Linked DNA regions of Homo sapiens. The protein of the gene in region 2 interacts with the protein of the main gene of each other region in a biochemical or structural test. Each region holds a gene or a part of one and is shown on either strand. Other genes may lie near its edges. The genes, in order: HPD, STK33 and USP5.

Region 1 (4,582 bases), on a different chromosome or scaffold from region 2:
TTTTAGGACCCAGCTGCCTCATTCTTTTGCAAGGATCACTCACTCTTCTATGAGTATGAACAAGCCCCTTTCCAAAAGAAGTCCTCACTGCGGGCAAGGCTGGGGCAGTGCAGCTGCGTGGGTGGTCATGGGCACTGCCCTGCTGAGGGCAGGGACTGGGATACCAGGCCCCTCCTACCTGCTTTATCTCTGAGACCAGGAACCAAGGGACCATATCCTACAGTTGATGAGCAGGGATGCTGCCCCTAGAGTCCCTTGTCTAACACTCTCCCCTCTCCTGTGTTCAGAGGTTTGGGCTCTGGGTAGCAAAACTGAAGACAGCTCATCTTTAGAGATCATCGGCCGGGCGCGGTGGCTCACGCCTGTAATCCCAGCACTTTGGGAGGCCGAGACCATCCTGGCTAACAAGGTGAAACTCCGTCTCTGCTAAAAATACAAAAAATTAGCCGGGCGTGGTGGCGGGCGCCTGTAGTCCCAGCTACTCGGGAGGCTGAGGCAGGAGAATGGCGTGAACCCGGGAGGCGGAGCTTGCAGTGAGCCGAGATCGCACCACTGCACTCCAGCCTGGGGGACAGAGCGAAACTCCGTCTCAACAACAACAAAAAGAGATCATCAAGCCGGCAGACAAGATGCTGCCAAACTCTGACCCCACCTCAGGGCCTTTCTCCGTTCGCTCTTCCTGGAATCCTTTTCCCGAGCATGGTCCCATGGCTGGCTCCCAAATGTCACCTTCTCGGAGAGGTCTTCCGTTATCAAAATTAGCTCCCCTGCGATCTTCGCTTCCACATATTCTCATCAACTGCCTTTTTTTTTTTTGAGACAGGGTCTCACTCTTGCCCAGGCTGGAGTGCAGTGTCAGGATCAGGGCTCGCTGCAGCTTAGACCTCTGTCCATCAATCGATCCTCCCACCTCAGCCTCCTGAGTAGCTGGGACCACAGGTGTGCGCCACTACGCCAGGCTAATTTTTATTTGTTATTTGTGTAGACGCAGGGGGGTCGGGGTCTTGCTATGTTACCGGGCTGGGCTCGAACTCCTGGCCTCAAGCGATCCTCCCACCTCTGCCTCCCAAAGCGCTGAAATTACAGGTGTGAGCCACCACGCCCGGCTCATCGCTTGCTTTATTGTCTGAATCGCGTTTATCTCTCTACAAAAGCAGTGTCATCCGTCTTTCCCTCCAGAGCAAGTCCCCTTCCTTCCCTGGTTCCAGAATTCCCCTCTCCGCGTGGTCCCGCTGGCAAAGCGCTGGCACCCGCAGCTCCTCGGTCCCGCGGCGCTGGCGGCCGCCCTGGCCTCCCCCTGGCTGCCATAAGGCACTACTGCCTTATGCGCAACACAAACACAGACACAGTATTGGACCGGGGCACGCTTTAATCGGGAGGGCTGGAGCAGAGGGCGGCCCCGCCGAGGGGCGTGGTCAGTGTGGGCGGAGCCTTGGGGGCCGAGTCCGCTGGTGGGCGGGACCCAAGGGGAGCAGCCAGTAGGGAAGTTGGGCGAGTTCCAGAATCAGGGGGCGTGGCTGTGTGGCTGTGGCCTCCGTGGGGTGGGCGGGGCTTACATGCCGGGCACCACCCCATTGGTCTCCATGTTGGTGAGGTTACCCCGCAGGTTCTGCTCCTCCTCGAAAGCCTTGAACAGTGAGTTGAAGTTGCCGGCTCCAAAACCCTGTGGCGGGAAAGAGAGGAGATGAGCCAAGGACCCAGAAAACCGAGTGTGCTAGCTGCCTGTCCCCTCGGGCCTGCCGGGGACAAGCAGTACCTGGTGGTTGTGGCGCTGGATGACTTCCAGGAAGAGCGTGGGCCGGTCCTGCACCGGTTTGGTGAAGATCTGCAGGAGGTAGCCTTTCTCGTCGTAGTCCACCAGGATTTTCAGCTCCTAGGCGGGAGACAGGGGGCTCTGCTAGGGGAGGCTGGCACGGTGAGATCCTTGGAAAGTCCACAGGGGCTCCTGCACCCCAAAAGTCTGGAAATGACCTCTTTTTCTGGCAGTTCAGCCACCTCCAAATATATCCCCAAACTGTCCTATTACTATCCCCCTACTACAGTTCCTAAGGCACCATTCAAGACTGCTGCCCGCTTCTAATCTTGTATCCTTACAATCCATCCTCCCCGCAGACATTATCAGGACACTTTCTTTTTCTTTTTTGAGACGGAGCCTTGCGCTGTTACCCAGGCTGGAGTGCGGTGGCGCAATCTTGGCTCACTGAAACCTCCGCCTTCCGGGTTCAAGCGATTCTCCTGTCTCAGCCTCCCGAGTAGCTGGGACTACAGGCGCAGGCTACCATGCCCGGCTAATTTTTGTATTTTTAGTAAGACGGGGTTTCACGATATTGGTCAGGCTGGTCTCGAACTCCTGACCTCAGGTGATCCACCCACCTCGACCTCCCAAAGTGTTGGGATTACAGGCGTGAGCCACCATGACCTGCTGCGGGATCTTTTAAAAGTCGGATCATGTCATTCCCCTGTTTAAAATCCTCCAGTGGAAATCGGAACCCTCATGTACTGCTGGTGGGACTGTAAAATGGTGCAACCACTTTGGAAAACAGTCTGGCAGCTTCTCAAAAAGTTAAACATATAGTGTTGCTTCCTTAAAATACGGATTAAAAAAAAAAAAGGGGGTGGCCAGGCATGGTGGCTCACTTTGGGAGGCCGAGGCAGGTGGATCACCTGAGCTCAGTTCGAGACCAGCCTGGCCAACATGGGGAAACCCAGTCACTACAAAAAAAAATACAAAAATTAGGCTGGGCAAGGTGGCTCACGCCTGTAATCCCAGCACTCTGGGAGGCTGAGGTGAGTGAATCACCCGAGGTCAGGAGTTCGAGACCAGCCTGGCCAACATGGTGAAACCCCATCTCTACTAAAAATAAAAATAAAAATAAATTGGCTGGGCATGGTGGCACACGCCTGTTATCCCAGCTACTCAGGAGGCAGAGGCAGGAGAATCGCTTGAACCCGGGAAGTGGAGGTTGCAGTGAGCCAAGATCGGCCACTGCTCTCCAGCCTGGGCAACAGAGCAAGACTCTGTCTCAAAAAAAAAAAAAAAAAAATTAGCTGGGCGTGGTGGCGGGCGCCTATAATCCCAGCTACTGGGGAGGCTGAGGCAGGAGAATTGCTTGAACCCAGGAGGCTGGAGGTTGCAATGGGCCAAGATCGCACCACTGCACCCCAGCCTGGGAAACAAAGCAAGACTCCATCTCTAAACAAACAAAAGGGAACATGGAATTACCATGTGACCTAGCTACTCCTAGATATATTCCAAAGTGCATTGAAAACACGTCCACACAGAGCCTTGTACATAGATGTTCACAGTAGCATTACGTATAACACCCCAAAAGTGGAAACAACCCAAATATCTATCAACGAGGAATAGATAAACAATGTGTGTCTATCTATACAATGGGATATTTTTCAGCCACAAAAAGGAACGAAGCACTGACACACACCCCACGCAGATGAACCTTGAGCACATGCTATGGGAAAGAAGCTGCTCACAATAGGCCTATTTTGTGATTCCTTTTTTTTTTTTTCCGAGATGGAGTTTCACTCTGTCGCCCAGGCTGGAGTGCAATGGCGCGATCTCGGCTCACTGCAACCTCCCCTTCCCTGGGTTCAAGCAATTCTCCGGCCTCAGGCTCCCCAGTAGCTGGGATTACAGGCATCTGCTATCACACCCAGCTAATTTTTGTATTTTTAGTAGAGACAGGGTTTCACCATGTTGGCCAGGCTGGTCTTGAACTCCTGACCTCATGATCCGCCCACCTCAGCCTCCCAAAGTGCTGGGATTACAGGCATGAGCCACCGTGCCTGGACTTTGTGATTCCTTTTGATGAAATGTCCAGAATAGGCAAATCTATAGAGACTGAAGGTAGATTAATGGTGCCTAGGGCTGGGGTGGGAGGGGGGAAGGGAACAGAGGGGGTTGGGAGGTGCTGGCTAAGAGGCTCAAGGTTTCTTTTTGGGGTGACAAAAATGTTCTAAAATTGATTTTTTGCCCAGGCTGGAATGCAGTAGCCTGATCATGGCTCACTGCAGCTTTGACCTCCTGGCCTCAAGTGATCCTCTCACCTCAGCCTCCTGAGTAGCTGGGACTACAGGCACGAACCACCATGCCCAGCTAATTTTTTAAAACTGTTTTTTTTGTAGATACAGGGTCGCCCTGTGTTTCTCAGGCTGGTCTTAAACTCCTGGCCTCAAGCAATCCTCTCACTTCAACCTCCCAAAATGCTGGGATTATAGGTGTGAGCCACTGTGTCTGGCCTAACTGTTTTTGTTTTTCTTTTAGACAGGGTATCACCCAGGCTGGAGTGCAGTGGCCTGATGATGGCTCACTGTAGCCTCTACCTCCTGGGTTGAAGTGATTCTCCCACTTCAGCCTCCCCAGTAGCTGGGACCACAGACACAGATCACCACGCACAGCTAATTTTTTTTTTTCTTTTTGTAGAGATGGGGGTTTCGCCATATTGACCAGGCTGGTCTCAAACTCCTGACCTCAAGTGATCCACCTGCCTTGGCCTCCCAAAGTGCTGGGATTACAGGCATGAACCACCATACCTAGTCCTAAAATGGATCTTTTTTTTTTTTTTTT
Region 2 (8,749 bases):
TTTTTTTGAGACAGAGTCTTACTCTGTCACCCAGGCTAGAGTGCAGTGGTGCGATCTCAGCTCACTGCAACCTCTGCCTCCTGGGTTCAAACGATTTTCCAACCTCAGCCTCCTGAGTAGCTGGGACTACAGGAGCACACCACCACGACTGGCTAATTTTTGTATTTTTTGTAGAGACGGGGTTTCACCATATTGGCCAGGCTGATCTCGAACTCCTGACTGCAAGTGATCGGCCTGCCTCCGCCTCCCAAAGTGTTGGGGTTATAGGCGTGAACCACTGTGCCTGGCCAGCTTCTGGTTGCTTATAATGGAGAGGGAGAAAAGACTGATATCAACAGGGAAGAATCAGGGAGAGGGTTTCCTGGTTTATCCACTGTCTCTAAACTGCAATTTCTGTTCTCGCTTTTTTTTTTTTTTTGAGACGGAGTCTAGCTCTGTTGCCAGGCTGGAGTGCAGTGGCATGATCTTGGCTCACTGCAATCTCCGCCTTCTGGGTTCAAGCGATTCTCCTGCCTCAGCCTCCCTAGTAGCCGGGATTACAGGTGCATGCCACCACACCCAGCTAATTTTTGTATTTTTAGTAGAGATGGGGTTTCTCTACTAAAACCCCAGGTTGGTCAGGATGTTGGCCAGGATGGTCTCGATCTGACCTTGTGATCCACCCGCCTCAGCCTGCCAAAGTGCTGGGATTACAGGCGTGAGCCACCGCACCCGGCCTCTGTTCTCGCTTTTAACTGTCAGTATAGGGGCCACATTTAAGACTGTCCTTCCGTATTACTGCTTAATCAGTGAGGAACATCATGCAAATTAAAATAGAAAGGAAAAGTTAATAGTAAACATCACTCAAACATTTAAAAAAATTCTGAAATAATGTGAATTTTAAATATACTGTAAATCCTTTTATAAGACAATACAGACTCATTTTCCTAATCATGCCCTTAATGAAAAGAATAAACAAGTGCTAGTCTTCCTTAAAATATAGCAATATCATCTAGAAAACTCACTGGGCCCTTCTTTAGGCTTTGTAAACATGTTACTAAAGCAGTCAGTCATTTGGCTTGGTCTGCAGAATGTCAGACAATTCGTAAGTTTTTTTTTTTTTCCCCTTTACTTGAATAAAACACATTTTGACTGAATTGACTATTTAGGTTTCTTGTAGACACAGTCTTAGCAAAGAAAACTAAAAAAATTGCTTTTGGAGAAGAAAATTATAGCTAGTTATATCTTATAAAACCATTCTTGTGTTCATTTTCTTGAGGAAATTGCTGTAAGTGTATCTTCTAGGGCCAATATGTAAAAGACCTTTTTATGATTAAATTAAAGCCCAGGGATTTTCATTATCAGAATTGTTTTATTGACTTGCCTTAGTTCTAAAAATAAAATGAAAACCTTAAGCCAAAGGAAGGCTCATGTATTAGTTAAGTACTGACATAATTTGAACTTATTTTATTTGCTTATATTATGTCCAGTACCTATGTATGTCCAATCTTTGGAGACACAAAGAAACATTATTGTATTAGAAGATTCTTTGGTTTTTGTAATACATATTTTTATATCTAAAGTCCTGTTTAAACATAATTCCATGATTCTATAGAAAAAGAGCTATTAATCTTTGTGTTTACATAAGTTTGCAATACTTGATTAATTTTAAGCCTCTAAAATATGAGTGACATCATTTGTCCTGTGAAATAGTAGATTTGTTTTAGTAACAAATCTTTCAGATCAATTCGTAAATGAGAAAGAAATAAATGTGAGTAAACATTTGTTCTATCTTGGTTTTTGTTTAAACTAAAATAATTAGAATTCAGCCAGCCAAAAAGAAGTTAAATTTGAAATCTAATTCTTGTCAAGAAATTTTGCATGCAGCTATTCAACCTGTTGTTTTAGAATTGCTGTGGTAAGAAAGTAGAACATTATTTTGGCAAATATAGCACTTGGTAGACTGGAGAGCAAAAATGAAACTTCTCAGTGAGTAATAGAAAGAAATCCTATGCTTTATGCATATAGCTACCAAGTACTTCTAAGGCAACTGATAAATTAGAAGACTGGAGCGAGAAAGTACTCAGAAGTCTGTGACAATGTCAGTGATATGATAATGACTTATTGAAAAATTGATGAAAATTAAAGGAAATGCTTTCTGAACAAAGCTAAGAAAAGAATAGCTGTTTTTAGATCCCCCAAAATCTATCTTAAAATGAAAATTTTAATATTTAAAGATTCCATTGAAAATTTGTGAATATATATATTTGTAAACCTTGAAGGATATGGTAAGTATGCTTTTAGGAGTACTGTTTATCATGAAAGAACTCAGCTGCAGTTAAATAAACCTGTACGTTACGAATACTTCTTACAATTTCTTATAAAAAGTACCATAAAATCAATATTCTTAATGTATGCAAAAAATGATGTTTTACACATCTGACATGGGACTTCTCTACACCTCAGAGAGAAAGCACTATTTTTCCCAAACAGAAAGCCTATCATTTGCAGATCTACTCCACTGCTCTGAGTCATTGATGGTTATGGGTTTTATATTTAACCTGAAATGCAAAACATTTTCTTCTAGGCCTGAAGTTAAATCATTTTGGAAAGTGATACAGGTACATTCTGAATTTTCTTTGTCTTGCTACATATTCTTGAAAAACCAGGTTAAGTGTTTATAAGAGATGTGTATGTGTGTGTGTGTGTGTGTGTGTGTGTGTGTGTGTGTATTTTGAGTGGCATCAGTTGCATTCTTTTCTTCCTCTGCCTGTCTGGAGGGCACTTTTAATGTACCTGTCCTCATACTCTCCATTATGAGTTTTAATCACAATAGAAATTTTTTTCCCACCACTTTGATGAAAGGTCATATTTATTGGGCAGACTTATCTATTCTATTTAATAATCTTATAATATACTATATACATTACCTGGGGTAAATGTAAGTACAGCATTTAGGATTTTAAAATCTATTTACAAATGAGACTGACCTGTAAATCCCCCTTTTGGGGAATACTACTATGGTCAGATTTTGGTTATTTTAAGTGAATAAAATGAACCGGATGGCTTTGCATGCTCTGAAACCATTTATATAAGAATCATCTGTTCAATAAAAGTAGGAGAGGACTCTGCTATGAAACTTCCTGAGTGAAATGATAAGTGGCATGAAGAAAAACAAAGCAAGGTAAGGGGGGAGAGGGCATGGGCTTGTTGTTTTAGATGAGGTGGTTAGGAAAGCCTTTCAAATGAGCAGAAGCCACAGTGAAGCATGGGAGCAGACCGTGTGAATGTTTGAGGGAAGAGCATCCCAGGCAGAGGAAGCAGAAGGGCAAAGCCTTGAGAAGGGAGTATACTTGGCATATTAGAGGAGCAGCAAGAGGCTACTGTATCTGAGAGAAAGGAGATATGAAAGCTGAGAGGTAGTGAAGAGTACGTTTATTTGGGACCGTATAGGCAAAATTCAACAAAATTTCTTTGTCATTTCTGTTTCTTAAGCTTACTCTTTAATTATGTTTTTCTATCTTTTAGATTTGACTGCACACTTAGTATATTTTTATCCTTTCTCCTCTGATTTTAATAAAGGTTTAAGAATATAAATTTTCTTTTAAGTGCAGCTTTGCCTGCATTCTGTTAAGCTTAATGGCCATAAGTCACATGGCTACCCCTAATCTAAAAGAGAAGCCCGGAAATGTAGGATGTTAATGAGCACATTGCTGCCCCAAAGAAGATCAGGATTCTGTTAGTAAGAAAGAATGAGAGGACAACTTTTAGGTAAACTACTAGCAATATCTTTTATAAAATCGTATGAGCCTGGCAGATTTTCCTGCCAATCACAATAGATAAGGATTTGATAAAAGCACAGCTTTCTGATTAGAAAACCAGGTATTTCTTTAATGAAATAAATATATTTAATTTCCTATTCTAGTCAAGTTTATTCCAGTTCAAAGGATAACAGTATATTGCATATATCCCCAGGTTTATCAATCTATGACTACAGAATCTACTTTTAAAGACTGTCTGAAATGGTATAGCATAAAACCATAATAATGTACTCCCAATTACTTCTGGAAGTTTCTCAAAGTACTCCTTTATATGTACTGCAGAGTGTATTTTTCTTCCTCCTCAACTGAGATCTTTCCAACTTGCCACCATGCAGCTGCCAATGGTCCTAGTTAAGTAAAATGCTGCCATACCTATTTTAGACTCAGGGAAAAATAGCACCCACTCATTTTTATTTTTGCTCAATATAAAAATGAGGATACTTATGAGGATACTTAAACTTTTAGGATTAGCTAGTTTTCTAAAAATCGAATTATTCACTCCTTTGTAAAGTATGTAATAGGAATTTGCTCTAATAATCAATAGATTAAGGTTTAAAATTTGAAACCATAGTAATGTATGTTTAACACCAATATTTTAAGCCTTTTTAAAAACCACAACCCACATTAAGAAATACATTTCATACTGTGATCAAGTACACACGCACACACACACTCTATACATATATGTCTGTCCAATTAAAAGTTTCACAGAAATTTCCAAGGAGGTATGCTAAATATTATCTCTTTGATTCTACTTTATTTTTAAAAAGTGGTATCAACCCACAAAATGGATTTCATAACCCACTACGCAGTTTGATAAGATGCTGTTTTAGACCATGCTTTTCACCAGTTTTGTGGTCCTATTTTGTCCTTTTCATGTCTATACAGGATGCTTCTAGTGCTAGTTGCTAGCTTTTCTCTGATTTCCAGGATGGTAATAGGTTAAGAATTTCTCTAAATGGTTATTTCTTTTCTTTCTGCAGCTCTCACGTGTGAATATGTGTCTAGTGCATCCTTAACCTGAGGACTTCACCAGTTCGAAATTACAGTTTTCACCATCAACTACCTTATCCTTTTTGGCCTGGTTTTCTTCCTCAAACAGTGGAAACATTTTTAAAGTTGCTTTTGTTGCAGAGTTAAACAAATGGCTGATAGTGGCTTAGATAAAAAATCCACAAAATGCCCCGACTGTTCATCTGCTTCTCAGAAAGATGTACTTTGTGTATGTTCCAGCAAAACAAGGGTTCCTCCAGTTTTGGTGGTGGAAATGTCACAGACATCAAGCATTGGTAGTGCAGAATCTTTAATTTCACTGGAGAGAAAAAAAGAAAAAAATATCAACAGAGATATAACCTCCAGGAAAGATTTGGTAAATATCAAAGATTCCACATCTAAGCACAAGTTGACATCCCGTTCCCTAATGGTACTCCTAGCTTCATCCATATCCCATGAGTTCTTGTTAGCTAATTCATTGCCTTCATAACTATTAAACATTTCTTTCTCACAGAAGAGGTGAGTAAATTTGGTTAGTAACTTGTTATATGATGTTTCAAACCACTGCCCAAATTAATTATTTCTCAGGACATGAGGTAATTAAACACGTTATACCAACTTCTTTTTTTAATGGTTTATACAGAAATGAATTGGTTTTCAAGTTGAATTAAATCTGAATTTTTGAGTATTTTCTTCAACTGATGGAGAATTAGATTTATAGTTGTGGTTAAGTAAAGGGTAGTTATGGCTTTGTTATTTAAGTTGTGGTTGTCTAGGTGGAATATCAACTATACTTTACAAAATCAGTTTGCATTAGTTACAAATAATCTATGGCTACCCAATTGTACTGATTTCGATGTATTCATCATTTTTTTTTTTTTGAATTGGAGTTTTGCTCTTGTTGCCCTGGCTGGAGTGCAATGGCACAATCTCAGCTCATCACAACCTCTGCCTCCTAGGTTCAAGTGATTTTCCTAGCTCAACCTCCTGAGTAGCTGAGATTACAGGAATGCACCACCATGCCCAGCTAATTTTTTTGTATTTTTAGTAGAGAGGGGGTTTCTCCATGTTGGTCAGGCTGGTCTTGAACTCCCGACCTCAGGTGATCCACCCACCTTGGCCTCCCAAAGTGCTGGGATTACAGGCATGAGCCACCGTGCCCAGCCATATTCATCTTTATATAGAATAGGCAGTGTGTAAGATTGTGGTTGATACAGCACAACTTTGGAGACAGAGCAATAAGCCTAAGAAAAGTCAGGTTCCCATTCCTCAAAATTTTGCCTTCTTCATATGTTCTCCCTTGACTGTTATTTCTGATTTGTATTATCATATAGTTACTGCCATATGGATGTATCTGAGTGAGTTGTTACTATGTTATTTTCACTCAAAGCATATTTTTGAGTGGCCAATAATTTACTTATAAGCTGTTTGATAATGGTTGTTAAATTGTGAAAGGAGAGTGATTGAGAAAGCTATAAAGTTGCTTTCTTTGATTTCAGAGAATCACTAGGTAAGCTTTGATGAATCTGCTATGCTGGTTATCATGTAGACTTTCCTGGATTCAGGGGATTGGATTGAATATCTTCTTAAGGTCTCCTTTAGCCTAATGAGCCAATGAATTGCATAGGGCTTAGAATTTGAAAAAGACAGTAAACAATCTTGTGCATAGTAAACATGGCACACGTTAAAGAGTTATCAGATTATCTAAATTAGGATTCTTTGTCAACAAAGAATATTACATCTTAAAGTTTTTTTTTTTTAATTTTTTTTTTGGTCCCAGCCCTCAAGAACCTCAAATGTAGAGAGAAAAGCATCTCAGCAACAATGGGGTCGGGGCAACTTTACAGAAGGAAAAGTTCCTCACATAAGGATTGAGAATGGAGCTGCTATTGAGGTATATAGAAAGCAAATGAAGCTACTGTGAACTTTCAGGTTTCTTCTAAGTCAATGGTTAATAGGAAAAATGATTGAAAAATAAATCTCTAAGGAAAGGAAGTAAAGAAAAGAGGAAATGTACCATTTTCAAGTATGTTAACATTTTTACTAAAGAAAATACAGATTAATTATCTTCTGTTTATGGAGGACCAAGTGGATTTTAATTAAAGTGGAGAACATTTTCATTAGCTAAAATGAGGATAGTTTCATCTTCAGGTCTTGGCCGTTGCTGAAAGCAATAGTGGAGTCTTTGTTTAGACCTTTTCATGATGCAGAGATGGACCAGGTAATTTTAGTTTGGCTGTTCACTTCCTTGATAGTGAGGCCAGAATCTCCCTCATGAGCTCCTCCATCTTTTCCATCCTGCGATTGGATAAATACCAATACTATTTTTCCAGGATTCAAATTATTATATAAAATAAGAATTAAATGTTAGAACAATAAAAAAATTAAAATGTGTGTTTTTAACATTAAAGAAACTGCAATAAGAACAACCACAACAAGAAGAAAATTGTGTTAATATTACCATTTAAATTGCTTTGGGGCACCACAAATTGCACCCATATAAGATGGTATACTTAATAAATGTATATGTTCTGATTGCTCAGCTGACTGACCACTCTTCATCTCTCTCCCTCTCCTTGGGCCTCCCTAGTCCCTGATACACAAAAATATTGAAATTAGGCCAATTAATAATCCTACAGTGGTTCAAGTGAAAGGGAGAGTTGCATGTCTTTCACTTTAAATCAAAAGCTAGAAATGATCAAGCCTGATGTCAAAACTTGTTTTAAAAGATATTTGGCAACTTACTTGAAATGATTAGAAAAGCTGCCTGGCCTGAAAAACTCTGACACACACACACACAAGTTTACCAAGTTTTAAATTTAGTCTTGGGCCAGGCATGATGGCTCATGCCTGTAATCTCAGCATTTTGAAAGGCTGAGGAAGGAGGATCACTTGAGGCCAAGAGTTTGAGACCAGACTGGGCAACATAGCAAAACTCCTTCTCTAAAAAAATTTTTAAAAAATTAGCAGGATATAGAGGCATTCGGCTGTAGTCCTGGCTACTGTGGGGTGCTGAGATGTGAGTATCACTTGAGCCCAGAAGTTTGAGGCTGCAGTGAGCTATGATCATACCACTGCATTCTAGCCTGGGCGACAGAGTGAGACCTTGTCTCCAAAAACAGTAAAATAAATAAATAATAAATTTAGTCTTAAGAGCTTTTATAAAAGCAAAATATGTTCATTGTGAAAAATTAGGCAAATATAAGTGTGGAGAAAATAAAAATTATCAACCAGATATAACCAATTTAAAAATTATTAACTTCACTTTTTCTATGCATGTACTAGTTTTATTTTATTTTTCTTTAACATTTTTCCTGTTTTAAATTAGAGGATATTTCAAATATATATACATATTTTAAAGAAGTAACTTTAACTTGGTATAGTTGAAGTTGAAGCTTCTATTCCCCCATAAAATATACTCATTTTAAATATTTTAAACATTTCAGAAGAGTATAAAGAAGGAAATTACAAGCATCCACAATTCTATTACCCTTACATAGCTACTATTAATATTTAGATGAACATTTTCACAGATATCCATGTAAGCACCTCCTCACACACACATTGTCATAATGAAATCATATCTTATATGCTTTTCACACTGTACACTATGTCATGGACTTCTTCTGTGTCAGTAAAAATAGATCTACATTATCATTTTAATAACATCCTTACACAATTATTAGAAATAAGAAACTGTTTTCTCCTTCATCACTATGTGTTAATATCAAAGCAGTTAGTTGAAGAAAGTGATTAGTTTGTAAAAAACTAGTTGGCCATTTCTCATTTTAGAATTCCTATTTAAACAGTATTGAATACTGTCTTCAAATTGTGGTTCTATTTAGAGAGAAAATAAAAGTTTAACTTTTAAAGAACAAGAAAAATTGGGGAAGTGGTTATGAAGAGATTATTTTGTAAATGAGAAAAGGGTAAATGACCATTTTAGTTGAGATTTA
Region 3 (6,732 bases), on a different chromosome or scaffold from region 2:
ATCAGGCCCGCGGCTCTCCGATTTCGGTGGAGGGAGGAAGGAGGATGGAGGAGAGCATCCTTTGCCCGTGGGTGGCAGAGACCTAACTGACTCAGAGGCCTTGCGCTTTGCTGTTTCCAGGTTGGGGAAAGCGGTAGGATGGCTCCTCACTCCCAAATCGCTCAGCCTGTTTGGCACGGGCTCGGTCCCTTCCGTGGAAGGCGGGAGTCGTTCAGGTTGCCGAAGGGAAGGGGTCAGATCTGGGGCTCAGGGAGCCCGAGCAGCTCGGCGCGGGGACGCGGACGCCGGCGAGGAAGGGGAGGAGTCTGGGGCTACGTGCGGCGGCGCACGGCGCGGGAGGCCAGGGCGCAGGGAGCGGGAAGCCCACGCGGCCCAGCCTCCCCCGGTCTCCCGCAGAGCCTCGGGCTCCGCTCCTAACCCCGTCGCCTGGCGGGCACAGCCCCAGTGCGCGCCCCGGGGCCACCTTCCTCCAGGAGACCCAAAACGTCCTTACCTGCCCCATAGTCCAAGGGGCATCATGTGCTCCGCCCTGCCCCCTCGACGCACCGACGGGGCTGCGGCTGCGAGGCCCCTGCCCGGACCCCAGCGGCCCTCGTCCCACAGCCCTGCATCAGGTCCGCGCGGATACCGGCCTCGGGGCCTCGGGGCCTCGGGAGAGGGCGCTGCCACTCCTGCCCCGGCCCCGGCCCCGGCCCGGCCAGACCCCTCCTCGGCGAGGGCTTACCGGTGTCGGCCGGCACCTTGGCCGCGTTCAGAGTGCCGATGAGCTCCCCCAGACTCTGCTTCCGCCCGTTCATCTTCCAGTTTCCCCCAACGAAGAACTTCCTGGAGGGCGCCATGGCGCTGGAGCCGAGGCGCTGAAGGTCAGTGTCTGCGCGCAGTCGCGGCCACTGCCCACTTATATAGAGCGCCGCGAAGTGGAACTCCGCCTCCTCGCCGTCCTCCGCCATGGCCCGCCCAGTCCCCCGGAGCCCTGCCCCCCGCCCGCCCTCCTGCCGCCGCCCCGGCCGCCGCCCGATGATGCACTGTTCCGACGTTCCCCCTTCTTGTGGCAACGTTCTAGGAGAGTCGGGGGCTCGGTCGCCTCCGCCTCGATTGCGGGGCTTTCGGGACAAGGCGAGACCTGTGAGCTCCGGCGCTCAGGGGAACCCTCGCTTGGCGACTTGAGTCCCCCACGGGGCCAGAAGTGGTTTTCAAGCGGAACTAGCTGGTGGCAACTTGGCCGTAGCCCAGATCGCCCACTGGGGCAGAGAGGGCCCCTCTCCAACTGTGGGATAGACAACCTCCTTCGCCCATCGGAGCAGCTCATGCCCGACTGCTGAGCAGGCACCCTTGTACCCAGGGAGTCTACCTGAGTGAAAACTTGCGGGACAAATGCAGGGTTCACAGCGGGAGGGGCAGCCCACACAGGCATAGGCCGCCAGGATCATCCCAACCCTCGCCCCGGCTGGCAAGGCCTGGCAGGAACTGCAGGGACTGAGTCCCAGCCTGAAGCCAGCTAGCCAGTTAGGGACATTTGGGAAATCCTCCACTCCTGTGTGAATAAAGAGAGGGAAGGGTTCTTCACTCCATCTTTCCTTGGCTTTGTGTCGGCATTTAGTCACTCTACTCCACCTCCCCACCCAACCCCAATTTTCCTAGAGCTCTAGAACCAGTGAAAAGTGGAGACTTGACTTTGGCAGGGAGGCGGCCAGAGTTAGGAGTTTTCTTAAGCGCCCTCCTGCTAACCCCAGGAAGGTAAGCCTCTCCCCCAAGGTATCAAACAGGACACAATTTAGCCGTTGTACTTTTATTCACATCGTGTATTTTGGCATTTTCCAGAGAAGGACAAGGAAGAGACAGGGTGGGGGAAAGACTGAGGCAGGAGGGCAAGTCGGGGGGTCCCTATTTCCCTCACATCCCTCCTTGACCAACCACACAGGGGCAAACAAAGGGGGAGGGGAGGCACAGGTGATCGCTCCACTGGGAGAGGATGCACAAAGCTACACCCACGCGCACAAACGAGACCCCTCCCTCCACACCAGGGGGCTGGGCGGGGCGACACAGAGAAGCAGAGCACTGTGGATTCCGGGGGCAGGGGAAGCAACAAAGTCTCCTTACAGACAGGTGGCCGGCCCCTCCCGTCCCCGTCCTGCTCCATCCCCAGAGTCTATCGCTGCCCCTCTGCTCTGCCCAGCCATTCTCCCACGGCCTCCAGCTTCTTCCCTGCTGCCGGGGACAAAAGGAAAAAGGGTACAGAGCAGAGGGGCTGAAGTCCATCCCTCAGCCCCTCTCCCTCATGCCAGGTGGTCTTCCCCTGCCCTCATTGGTAAGGGGTGAGGCAGGCTCTTAGCTGGCCACTCTCTGGTAGAAGTAGATGTAGCCCAGGTCCTTGGGCGGCTTCTCGGAGGCACACACTTTCTGGTCATTGTAGATCACCCATCTGGGGAAGTGGGGAAAACAGAAAAGGATGAACAAACTGGGCATTCAAAGTGGCATCATGTAGTCTCTCAGACATGGCCCCTGGAAGTGCTCTCCACACTCTCTGCCCATACCCCAAATCCACAGCCCAGCCACCATGTGCCTTAAGGGAGCTTCACAACCTCACAAGGGTCACGGACCCTATTATGTCTTCAGATCCTCCAGTACCTTTACAACCACCCTCCACCCATTCCAGGGAGGCAGGGGGTTGGTAAACTTTTTCTGGCAAGGGCCAGATAGTATTTGAGGTTCTGCAGGCTCTCTCTCTGGTCTCTGACACAACGACTCAACTTTCCTGCCGCAGCGTGAAAACAGGCACAAACAACACATAAACAAGTGTGTCCAGGTTCCAGTGAAAATTTATTTACAAAGGCAGGGGGCCTGGCCAGGCACGGTAGCTCATGCCTGTAATCCTAGCACTTTGGGAGGCCGAGGCAGAAGGATCACTTGAGCTCAGGAGTTCAAGACCAGCCTGGGCAACATAGTGAGATCCCATCTCTATTTAAAAAAAAAGCTGGTGGCCAGATCCAACCCTTGGGCCAATCACTGCTGCAAGACCTTCTGTCACTCTCTGGCACTTTATGTCCCCATCAGGCAGTCCCTTCACCTTCTCCCATAGCTATCCCAAGGACTTCCAAATGGCCCTCCTCATTCCCACCACCATTCTCCATTCAAAACGCATGTGGCCAGCACTCACCTGCCTTCTTTCTTGATGTGGCAGACGTAGTGACCACACATGGTAGAGGTGCCCATGTGACTAATGAAGGCAAAGAGCTGATACTCTAGGAAAGGAGAGAGGGGGTCAGAGAAGGAAACAGAAGAGGAATGCTTGAGTGATGGCCCAAAGATCCAGACAACAGCTCAGACTCAGGACAGGAGTTTCAGGGAATGTGAGGCAGGTACTGGGCCAGAGCCTGTCTCCATGTCAGAGAACCCCACCCTCAGATGCCACGTTGAGGTGGAAAGAAGCCCCTGACTCCTGAGGAGGGCAGAGCTGCCTGAATGAGGGATCTGGTGTAGTAGACTGACCAGATTCCACCAGGCCTGTCCTGCTTCCTGGGGATACTCACTTCCAGGACCATCCCGGACTTTAGGTCCCACTGGCACAGACTCAGAGATGGAGTCGGCAGCTGAGCGGCCCTCTGAGATGTCCATGGCAGCTTCAGCATCCAGGTCGTCAATGTGACTGAAGATCCAGTCCACAGCCCGTTCTAAACTATTGTTCTTGGAGAGGAAGGAAGCATTACTTTTTTTCTTGAGACGGAGTCTTGCTCTGTCGCCCAGGCTGGAGTGCAGTGGCGCGATCTCGGCTCACTGCAAGCTCCGCCTCCCGGGTTCACGCCTTTCTCCTGCCTCAGCCTCCCAAGTAGCTGGGACTACAGACGCCCACCACCACGCTTGGTTAATTTTTTGTATTTTTCGTAGAGACGGGGTTTCACCGTGTTAGCCAGGATGGTCTTGATCTGCTGACCGCGTGATCCGCCCACCTCACCCTCCCAAAGTGCTGGGATTACAGGCGTGAGCCACCGCGCCCGGCCAAACAGAAGCATTACATTTTTAACAAGTTCTGGGGCAAAAAACCCAGCAGTGAACGCAGGCTTCAGCTCCTTCATCGCAGCCACAAAAGAGTGGTGCCCAACCTCGGCCAGACCACACCTGTTGTCTTTGGTCTTGCTCAAGAAGGATGGCCCCTCATTCCCACCCCCTTCTTCCCCACTGGCCCCATGTCCTTAGCTGGGGCAGCCCATACCGTGGCCCGCAGCGCTTTCAAGGCCTGGTCCCGGGAGAAGCCCATGGAGACAATGGTGGTCACACAGTCCTCAGGAGGGGGGTCGGCTGCTGCGCTTGTGGAGCCCGGCCCACTAGAGCCAGGCAGGATGAGGGGGTTTGCAAAATCTGTGGATGTGAAGGGGTTGATGTGTTTGGGGGAGGATGGAGGCCCTGCCCCACCCTGCTCCCCACCCCAGCCTACCTGGATCATCCATGTGTGACATGACCCAGTTCATGGCGGCCTCAGCCCCGCTGTTGCCCGTGTAGTAGACAGCTTTGCGGCAGGCGTCCATAGGGAATCCCATCTCCACCAGCTGGATGATGACTGATTCATCCAGCATGGGCGCTGTAATGGGAATTGTGGGTACACGGACCGACTGATTGGGCCACTGTTTGCTCCTCCTCCCTCCCCCAGGACCCAGCCCTCTTCCAATCACCCATTCCATGCATTTTTCTCCCATGGATTGGCACCTTATCCCAAAACCAAAATGACCACACAATTGTAATGTGGGTCCCTGCCCATTCTCACAGAATGGGCCCTGTTTCTGGAGCATGATACCCCCACCCTACCCAAACCAGGGAGGTAACAAGGGCAGAGAGGCCACTAGCTGGCACTGCTGCCATCCACACCCAGAAGGTGGCTAGGAGTGCGCTGGGGAGGCCCCATGTCAATCAAAGAGGGCAGAGGAAATTTGAAAGGGAGGACAGGAGAAACACAAAGGACAGGGGCAGGGGATGCAAGGCAGAGAGGCCCCCATCAGCACGGGAGAGAGACAGGCAGGAAGAAGAGTCACTAACATGTCGGAGAGGAGAAGTGAGGGGAGCAGAAGGAGTCTTCGTCTTCGTTGCCATAGAAACCAAGGCTACCTTTGGGCTCATCCGGAGTGACCAGGGGTGGGGCAATGTCTGGCAGCTCCTCCTCTCCGGGCTGCAGCCCTGTGCCCCTCAACTGGGAGATGTCGAGCTCCTCTGGCATCTCGATGGACACATCTGTGGGAAAAGGGTCACCTCAGCAGCTCCCGGAGGCCTACCTGGAAAGTGATTCGGGAACCTCAATCCCCTGCCCCCTATGTCAGAACTGCTCTGTAAAGAGGAGCTGCTAAAAGCACGGCACCCATCTTAGGGGTCCCAGTATAAGACAAATAATACTAAGCCTGGGAGTTGGGAGGCCAGGATGCTGGTCCTAGATCTACCATAAATAATCTATGGACAGGGCAGGGGGCCTAGAACTTGTGAGACAGAATGATTTTATATTCCTGTGAGTCTCAACTTCCTTATCTAGAAAATGAAGGTACATCACGAGTTCTCAAATGACAGTCAGGGACCTGTAAGACTCACGAGAATTAATTGTTTCAAGATTATCAAAATGAAAACATTTTACCAATTATTTTAAAAAACTACAAAAATCACTTTTGGTTGTAAATCATACCTATAACAATCAAAGAAGTCTTTTAATATTTTTAGTTAGTGCTTTCAAACTAGATAAATTTTGAAACATTGAAGGTGATTTTTTTTCCTCTTTCAGAGGAAACTTTGAGAAACACTAGTTTATATGTGTTAAAGCCCCTTCTTTTTCTAGCATTTTCTGTGTAACCTCCCTCATTCCAGCAGCCATACCCAGTTTCTTGGGCACCCAGTCTAAGCCGAAGGTGAACTTCTTGATCTGGATGACCAGGTAGTCAGGGAATGAGGCAAATCGTGTGGTCCTAGGGAAGAGAGACTGTGCTGGTACCCAGACAATCCCCAGGGTTTTCCTCTCCTGAAACTCCCACCTGGGGTTCAGCCCCTCATGGGTAGAAGTCCCAATAACCCAGAAGATCCTCCATATTCTTCTCTTCCCCTGGGCAGGTGTCTGATGCCTGTCCTCGGCCAACGAGGAGCAGTAGAGGCCAGAAGGAAGGCTGTCAACAAAAAAAAGAAAAAGAAAAAAGCCCAGGCATGGTGGCTCATATCTGTAATTCCAGCACTTTGGGAGGCCAAGGCAGGACGACTGCTTGAGCCCAGGAGTTAAGAGACCAACCTGGGCAACATAGCAAGACCCACACGTAGGGAAAAAAACATAGCAAGACCCACACATAGAAAAAAAAAAAAAACCCACACAGAGAGGAAGAGCTGTTTCACTGGCAGGAGCAGCAAAGGGCTGGGTAGCTGACTCCCCGAGACCAAAGCCCTTTTTCAGGTCTCACACCCATGCCAGGTGCCAATGGCTAGGCTCAAAGTGTGGCTATTTGCTGGAAATCCAAATTCTGCCCACAGCTGATCCTAAGTGCCTGTGCTCAGCCATGACTGAGGGGCAATGAAGAGAGGCTACACTACAAAGAGACCCTGTGCCACAGAAGAGGGAGTGGTTGGGGCAGGACAAGGTGACAGATAGAGTCAGTACCCGTGTCCCCCCTACCAGGGCCCCTTGGTTCCATCAGGGCCAGATTACCAGCCCAACTGATTCAACCCTGAGGTTCCAACCACAAAGGGATGAAAGAACAGGGAAGAGACAGAAGTATC

Evidence for each region.
Region 1: of the proteins of STK33 (region 2) and HPD, one has a biochemical effect on the other in vitro, tested with the Homo sapiens proteins (one study listed by BioGRID).
Region 3: the proteins of STK33 (region 2) and USP5 form a complex in vitro, tested with the Homo sapiens proteins (one study listed by BioGRID).

The regions. Positions count from the first base shown.
Region 1 is NC_000012.12:121,838,176-121,842,757, forward strand, and holds the end of HPD (4-hydroxyphenylpyruvate dioxygenase), read right to left. Parts: intron 1,874-4,582; coding exon 1,757-1,873; intron 1,664-1,756; coding exon 1,553-1,663; 3' UTR 1,352-1,552; downstream 1-1,351. UniProt on the Homo sapiens protein: Catalyzes the conversion of 4-hydroxyphenylpyruvic acid to homogentisic acid, one of the steps in tyrosine catabolism.
Region 2 is NC_000011.10:8,471,101-8,479,849, reverse strand, and holds part of STK33 (serine/threonine-protein kinase 33), read left to right. Parts: exon of another isoform or gene 1-2,566; 5' UTR 2,567-2,600; exon of another isoform or gene 2,601-3,098; 5' UTR 3,099-3,163; intron 3,164-3,177; exon of another isoform or gene 3,178-3,750; intron 3,751-4,783; 5' UTR 4,784-4,944; coding exon 4,945-5,169; intron 5,170-6,573; coding exon 6,574-6,687; intron 6,688-8,749. UniProt on the Homo sapiens protein: Serine/threonine protein kinase required for spermatid differentiation and male fertility. Promotes sperm flagella assembly during spermatogenesis by mediating phosphorylation of fibrous sheath proteins AKAP3 and AKAP4.
Region 3 is NC_000012.12:6,861,674-6,868,405, reverse strand, and holds the end of USP5 (ubiquitin carboxyl-terminal hydrolase 5), read right to left. Parts: intron 5,937-6,732; coding exon 5,848-5,936; intron 5,262-5,847; exon of another isoform or gene 5,221-5,261; coding exon 5,029-5,220; intron 4,577-5,028; coding exon 4,433-4,576; intron 4,357-4,432; coding exon 4,211-4,356; intron 3,685-4,210; coding exon 3,531-3,684; intron 3,243-3,530; coding exon 3,158-3,242; intron 2,423-3,157; coding exon 2,329-2,422; 3' UTR 1,774-2,328; downstream 1-1,773. Other genes in the region: TPI1 (triosephosphate isomerase), read right to left, coding at 725-950. UniProt on the Homo sapiens protein: Deubiquitinating enzyme that participates in a wide range of cellular processes by specifically cleaving isopeptide bonds between ubiquitin and substrate proteins or ubiquitin itself.